2 linked regions of the Homo sapiens genome follow. The protein of the gene in region 2 purifies or fractionates together with the protein of the main gene of each other region. This does not show direct contact. Each region holds a gene or a part of one and is shown on either strand. Other genes may lie near its edges.

Region 1 (3,814 bases), on a different chromosome or scaffold from region 2:
ACTCCTTTACCATGTCCACTTGTGTTTCTGCCTTACCAGCTCACGGATGATTGATATCCAGACCAGGATGGCTGGGCGAGCATTGGAGCTTCTTTATCTGCCAGAGAATAAGCCCTGTTACCTGCTGGATATTGGGTGAGATTCTGGGGCCTGGTTCAGATTGTCTAAGGTGGTGAAGTGTCTTTGTAAACTGACCCTGAGTGTCTGGTCATGTCTTCCAGCTGTGGCACTGGGCTGAGTGGAAGTTATCTGTCAGATGAAGGGCACTATTGGGTGGGCCTGGATATCAGCCCTGCCATGCTGGGTAAGTATGTCCTGTCTGGCACCAGGGTGGATTACCCTGATGGGTGTGGAGAAGCCACAGGTATTTCTCTTTCTCTGACTGCCTTTTCTCTAATGTAGATGAGGCTGTGGACCGAGAGATAGAGGGAGACCTGCTGCTGGGGGATATGGGCCAGGGCATCCCATTCAAGCCAGGCACATTTGATGGTTGCATCAGGTGAGGGTCTTTAATTCCTGCTTTTATTTATTTAGAGACAGGGTCTCACTCTATCACTTAGGCTCTAGTGCAGTGTCTGTGATTATGGCTCACACTGCAGCCTCCACCTCCTGGGTTCAGGTGATCTGCCCACCTCAGTCTCCTGAGTAGCTGGGACTACAGGCCCACACCACCGTACCTAGCTAATTTTTTGTTTTTTTGAGATGGAGTCTTGCTCTGTCACCAGGCTGGAGTGCAGTGGTGTGATCTTGGCTCACTGCAGCCTTCGCCTCCCAGGCTCAAGCGATTCTCCTGCCTCAGCCTCCCAAGTAGCTGAGATTACAGGAGCACGCCACCACACCCAACTAATTTTTGTATTTTTAGTGGAGGTGAGGTTTCACTATGTTGGCCGGGATGGTTTCAATCTCTTGACCTTGTGATCCACCCTCCTCGGCCTCCCAAAGTGCTGGGATTACAGGTGTGAGCCACCGTGCACAGCCTAACTTTTTTTGTATTTGTTGTAGAGATGGGTTTTTGCTATGTTGCTCAGGCGATCCACACACCTGGGCCTCCCAAAATGCTGGGATTATAGGTGTGAGCCACCCTGGCCTCTTTCTTCCTGCTTTTAGTCCTGCAAGCCAGTGCCTCCCAAACCTGGCTGTGCAGCAGACTCATGCAGATATTTACAAATACACATCCCATGGGATTTTCAGATTTACAAGGTTAGAGCAAGGCCCAAGAGTGTATTTTTTTGGATTCTAAAACTTTGCAGTCTGGCCAACATGGTGAAACCCAGCCTCTACTAAAAAGCCAGACGTGGTTGTTGTTTTTTTTTTTTTGAGATGGAGGCTCTCTCTGTTGCCCAGGCTGGAGTGCAGTGGCGGGATCTCGGCTCACTGCAAGCTCCGCCTCCCGGGTTCAAGCCATTCACCTGCCTCAGCCTCCCAAGTACTTGGGACTGCAGGCGCCCACCACCACGCCCAGCTAATTTTTTTATATTTTTAGTAGAGACGGGGTTTCACCATGTTAGCCAGGATGGTCTCAATCTCCTGACCTCATGATCCGCCCTCTTCAGCCTCCCAAAGTGCTAGGATTACAGGCGTGAGCCACCGCGCCCAGCCTAAAAAGCTAGACATGGTGGTGGCCACCTGTAGTCCCAGCTAGCTACTCAGGAAGCTGAGGTAGGAGAATTGCTTGAACCCGAGAGGCGGAGGTTGCAGTGAGCCGAGTCCACGCCATTGCACTTCCAGCCTGGGTGACAGAGCAACACTTCATCTCAAAAATAAAACTTGTCTACTATTGCGATTATTTTGCATTGCCGGGTTCGGGCACCACTGGTACAGATTCTGTGTCAGCTTTGTGTGTCTGGTGGGGCAGAGGAGGTGGTCTTTTAGTCTCTAGCGGCCATTTTATGGGCCCCAGCCATCTTGTGGGCCCCAGCAGCCATCTTACTTTATTTGCCAACAGATAACTGGTAGAGAGCGTCTGGACTTGCTCTAATCTCTTAAGTGCTTCACAGTCCTTTCTCTGTAATCAGAGTCGGGTTAAACATCCACATAGCACTTCAATAACAGATCTTAGAATGTTAAAATTGATTAAGTTTTTCTTAGGCTGCTGTGATCAGTTCTGTTTAGTTTTTGGTGTGGTGTGGGAGTGAAAGTGAGAAAATAGGGGAGGAAGTTACAAATCATTACTTGCAGGGGAGACTTCCTTTGGTTACCCTAAGTTGAGTGGTGGGGATGTGAAGTGGGGAGCCAGGTGAGAGGTAAAAATTCAGATTAGAAGATTTTCCTTTTACATCTGGGAACAAGACCCAGGGGGGTTGGGGAATAATTTCAAGGGTAGCAGATGCTTTTTGGTAATGGTCAGATGAGGTGTTTTAAGCTGTGAAAAACCGAAGGCCAGCAGTATGGTCTGTATGTTTCGGAAGGGGATGGTCAGTTTTTGTTTGTCTTCGGGGAGAGGTGAGATGGTATAGCAAACTGTTTTTTTGGAGACGGATTCTTACTGTATTGTCCAGACTGGAGTGCAGTGGCACGATCTCGGCTCACTGCAACCTCTGCCTCCTGGGTTCAAGCGATTCTCCTGCCTTAGCCTCCTGAGTAGCTGGGATTACAGGTGCTCACCACCATGCTTGGCTAATTTTTGTATTTTAGTAGAGATGGGGTTTCACCATGTTGGCCAGGCTGGTCTTGAACTCCTGACTTCATGAACTGCCCGCCTCAACCTTCCAAAGTGTTGGGATTACAGGCGTGAGCCACCGCACCCGGCCCAGACTTTTTTTTTTTTTTTAAACATTTGCTACATGTAAGGCGTACAAGGTGCTGTGGAGTACAGGGAAATGAAACAGTTTCTGCGTGTAAGACTCTCCACGGTTTATTAGGTGCTTTAGGACATGGACCAGGCAACTGAATATAAGGGCATGAGTGGTGTGTGCCCTAGGGAGTCATGGGGCTGCCAGAGCACAGGAAAGCCTTGGGTGGAGGGGCTGCACCTTGAAGGCTGGGAGGAATTTGGATAGTCAAGGAGAGGGTTTCTGAGTGAGGGAACAGTGGGCAGAGGCACAGATGCCGGTGGGAAAGGGGTCTGAGATGAGAGGGATGAACGAGAGATTCCACGGAAGATGGGGTTGAGTGTGGTTGCTTCCTAGAAGGCACTTAAGTGTGTCCTAAGAAGTTTGGGCTTGATGGAGTAGATGATGGGGAGTTGGCAGGTGACGGGATCAGATGTGTGTTTAAGGAAGGTGATTTTCTGGTGAAAGAGGAGAGAGAGTTAGGTGGAAGCATTTGAGCTGGTAGCACTGAGCATTGGTGCGGGGAAGTGAAAGTTGGGAGAGGCTGTGGGACAAGCCAGTGGGGTGGAGGTAGGGCTCTGTGTGTGTACAGCAGGGCGGAGGGGAAGGGCAGGAAGGAAGACATAGTGACTGGTTGAGGTTTTATTTATTTATTTTTTGAGATGGAGTCTTGCTCTGTTGTCCAGGCTGGAGTACAGTGGCACAAGGCTTACTGCAACCTCTGCCTCCCAGGTTCAAGTGATTCTTCTGCCTCAGCCACCTGAGCAGCTGGTATTCAAGGCACATGCCACCAAGCCCAGCTAATTTTTGTATTTTTAGTAGAGACGGGGTTTCACCGTGTTGGTCAGGCTGGTCTCGAACTCCTGACCTCAAGTGATCCACCCATCTCAGCCTCCCAAAATGCTGGGATTACGGGTATGAGCCAATGCACCTGGCTGCTTGAGGTTTTAAATCTGGGGGTTGTAAAGACACTTAACAGGTAGAGTGGAAGGGAGTGATTTAGGAGGAAGGGTGATGGGATGGCTGTGTGTATGTGAGTAGTC
Region 2 (3,814 bases):
CTGACCTGATCCCCAACACCCAGCCCTGACCCCAGCCAGGCTGGACGCCTCACCACCTCCTTCCTCCCGCACAGCCAAAGGGAGACCCAGGAGGAGGCTGGGCCCTGGGGTGTAATCCTCCCTGGCTGGGTGACTCTGGCATGCTCACCTCCCCTCTCTAGGCTTGTTTCTGCCTTCGGGAAATGAGTGAGTTGGATTAAACTGGGGTCCATCCCGGGGATTAATGCATTGAGTTTCATAGAGCTCCTGCCCCAACCTCCTTTAAATTGGATGCGAAATTATGTTTTTAAATTCGTTTTGCCAAGATTCTATAGGGTTTTGTATCATGTTTAAAGTGGACAATGGATATGTTGGTCACTAGAGTCTGACAAGCCTGGGCTGGAATCCCGGCAACTTCGCGTATAGCAGCTGTATGATCTTGGGTGAGCCTTCGGTGTCCTCTGCCTCAGTTTACTAACGAGCAAAATGGGGTTAATCGGAAACCCTTCTCCCAGGTGTTGGGAGGAATAATTGTTGTGACAGCTTAGTACACAGCTCCCAACAAACGCCAGCAATTCTATTGCCAGGATGAGTACTGAGGTCCTTCCAGACATGTGAATCTAGAACGTAAAACATGGGTTAATGAGAAAGTAGCTGGTCACGGAACTGTGGTTGTGATCCACTGTTGAGAGAAGGGCCTGAGCACAAAACTGGTCCAAGTACTTTATTGATGCGCCCTGACGCCCAGGCCAGCAGGCCAGACCAGTCTACAGTCAAGTGTAGATGGGAGGGCAGTAGGTGGAGACGCCTGGAAGAGCCGAGATGGAGAGGTCTGGGCATTCAGATGGGACATCCTTCTGGTCTGGTTTATTGTGAGGGTTTCTGAGGGTTGGCCAGAGCCCAGGGACAAGGAAGATTTTTTTACAAAAAGACACCCACCACGTAAAAAACTACTTTGTGCCCAGCTTGGGGCTTCGGCCCCATCGTCTGTCTGTCCATCGCTTTCCCGGGATCCCCCAGGCTTGGATCTGGGGGATGCTCAGGCCATCAGGGCAGCAGGCAAGCAAGACCCATGATGCAGACTCCAGGTAACGGCGCCTTTGCCCCGCAGTGGCGTCCCTGGAGCCCAGAATGCACCTCAGTGACCCGCCAACTCTCAGAAGGGCGGGGGGCTTCAGAGCACGGCCAGATTGTGGCAGGACTTGGAGCGGGCCTTGAGTGCCCGGCGGCGTGCGCTGCGGGCTGTCAGGCGTGCCAGGAAGCGACGAGCGCGCTGGGCTAGGCTGGCCGGCCGTCGGGGTGCTGGGGGTTCCTTGGCCGCACTGTCCCGGCGGCGCAAGCGCAGTTGGCGCACCACGCCCTCGAAGAGCTCGGCCACATTGTGCTGCAGCGTGGCGGATGTCTCGATGAATTTACAGTCGAACACCACAGCGCAGGCGCGGCCCTCTAAGGGGGCGGGGCCCGGCGAGGAGGGGTGGAGCCATAACGGAAGGCGGAGAAAAAGGTAGGAAGAGATGTGTTTAGTCTCGATTGGAAGCAATTTTTCCTGTGCTCATGCCTGGTGCTGCTGTCTGGGGACTCAGATAAATCAGACTGGTCTTTGAGGGAAGACAGAGAGGCTGGGGTCAGGGAGGGGTCAGATTATTGAATGCCAGGTAAAGGGTCTAATTTGCTGTGGATCGGAATTACCTGGAGGAGCTTGTTTAAATGCAGATTCCTGGACCCACCCTCAGAGTTTCTGATTCTGTAGGTTTGGGTTGAGGTCTGGAAATCTGTGCTTTAACAAAATCTCCTGGGGCTTATGTTGCAGTTTTTTTTTTTTTTTTTTTTGGATGTCTGTTCACAAAGCATAGGGTCTTCCACCTCCAGGAGCCACTGAGCCCGAGTTCTAGTCCTCAGGGGCTGGTGACTGTGAAACTAGCTTTTTCCTTTCTGGGTCTCAGTTTACACATTTTTTTAGATTTTACTCTGTGAGTAAGACCATTGAAAAATTGTTATGGGCCCTATCTGATATGTCAAACTTATTAAAATAGTCCCCATCCCATTGTAAATACAAGCCATATATGACGTTTAAAATTTTGGTTTGTAGTTACTGGTTGACAAAATATGTTTTGCAGACAATTAAAGCTTTGAGAAATTTGAATTTCTAATTTTTTTCACTGTATTTTGGAGCCAATAATGGTTCTTTTCAGTTCTCAAATGTAAGCCCTTGAAAAGCCTGTAGGCACTGGGCCTATCATCCTGGTGGATAAAGTGTCTCTGATTAAGGGGCTAGGGGAGCCATAGAGGAAATTATTATTTTTTTGAGACAGAGTCTCATTCTGTCACCCAGGCTGGAGTGCAGTGGCGTGGTCTTGGCTCACTGCAACCTCTGCCTCCTGGGTTTAAGTGATTCTCATGCATCAGCTGCCCAAGTAGCTGGGATTACTGGTGTGCACCACCATGCCTGGCTAATTTTTATATTTTTAGTAGAGATGGGGTTTCACCATGTTGGCCAGGTTGGTCTTGAACTCCTGATCTCAAGTGATCCACTTGCCTCAGTCTTCCAAAGTGCTGGGATTACAGGCGTGAGCCACTGGGCCTGGCCAGAATTTTTTTTTAAAAAAAGAGCTAAAATTATTTTTAATTTTTTTTGTAGAGAGAAGGTCTTGCTGTGTTGCCAAAGCTGGTCTCAAACTCCTGGGCTCAAGCAAGTCCTCCCACCTTGGCCTCCCAAAGTGCTAGGATTATAGTTGTGAGCCACCATGCCCCACCACATACAGGAATTTTTAAGAAGTGCAAATTCAACTCTGGTCTTGGAAAATTCTGGCAGGTGGCAAGGAGGAATAATTGAGAAGCAGGAGGACTGGCGAAGGTGGAGATGCCAGGATAGCACAGAGACTGTAGGCAGAGAGGGAAGGGAATGTGGAATTAATGGAGGTGGCCTGACAGGATCTGGGGACTGGTTTGGGGGTGATGAGTGGGAGGCAAGAATGGTTCCCAGCTTGCAGGCTTAGGCAAGTGGCTGCAGGGTAGGGGCAGCTTGGCAGGGACAGTCACTGAGATGAAGAGCGCTGGAGGAGCAGCCATGACAGTGGGGCCCAGGTGAAGAGGAGGTGGTGGGATGGAGGGCTCACCTTCCACAGAGACTTCTCGGCAGCGGGCCAAGTCTGCCTTGTTGCCCACGAGGATGATGGGCACATGGTCTGCCTGATGTGTGCGCCGCAGCTGGATGCGGAGCTCAGAGGCACTCTCAAAGCTGCCTCGGTCTGCGATGGAGTATACGATGACATAGGCACTGCCCCCCTGCAGGCATGACTCCTGGCTCCAGCTTTTATCCTGCAGGAGAGGGACCCAAGACCCATCCTCAGAGGGTATCTAGGCCCTGGCTGAGGAAGGTGGAGCTGGGATGGTCTAATGGGTGGGATGCAGCTTGAGGTTTATAGTTTGGACAGGTGTGGGGGACAACTTCTGCTATAATTCCCTGTGTCACCTTGGGAAAATTGGTGATTCTTTCTGAGCCTCAGTTTCTCTGCTTAAAAATTTAGGCTAATAACACTACCTCACAGAATTCTCTCACTCACTGATACTTTTGCAGGCTGGGTAGTGCAGGCAAAATTTACTTGGTTCCTGTTCCTGCTAAAGAGGGTTCTCTCTTGACCTGTTTAGCTCTTTTGTCTTGTTTCTGAGGAGGGTTTAGTCTTGCCATATGGTTCTTTATGCCTGGTGAAATCCAGAATGAAGAGAAAAAAGAGAGAAAAGTGAGGACAGGAGGCTGACTTTAGAGGGAAGGCATTTTTCAGGACAGTTTTGAAGATGGAGGTGAAGGAGCAACTGTAAAGTGTAAGTTCACAAG

The links.
Region 1: the proteins of REM1 (region 2) and BUD23 fractionate together in Homo sapiens (co-fractionation; one large-scale study listed by BioGRID). This does not show direct contact.

The regions. Positions count from the first base shown.
Region 1 is NC_000007.14:73,686,597-73,690,410, forward strand, and holds part of BUD23 (18S rRNA (guanine-N(7))-methyltransferase), read left to right. Parts: intron 1-39; coding exon 40-135; intron 136-221; coding exon 222-304; intron 305-402; coding exon 403-499; intron 500-3,814.
Region 2 is NC_000020.11:31,481,770-31,485,583, reverse strand, and holds the end of REM1 (GTP-binding protein REM 1), read right to left. Parts: intron 3,298-3,814; coding exon 3,096-3,297; intron 1,426-3,095; coding exon 1,154-1,425; 3' UTR 689-1,153; downstream 1-688. UniProt on the Homo sapiens protein: Promotes endothelial cell sprouting and actin cytoskeletal reorganization. May be involved in angiogenesis. May function in Ca(2+) signaling.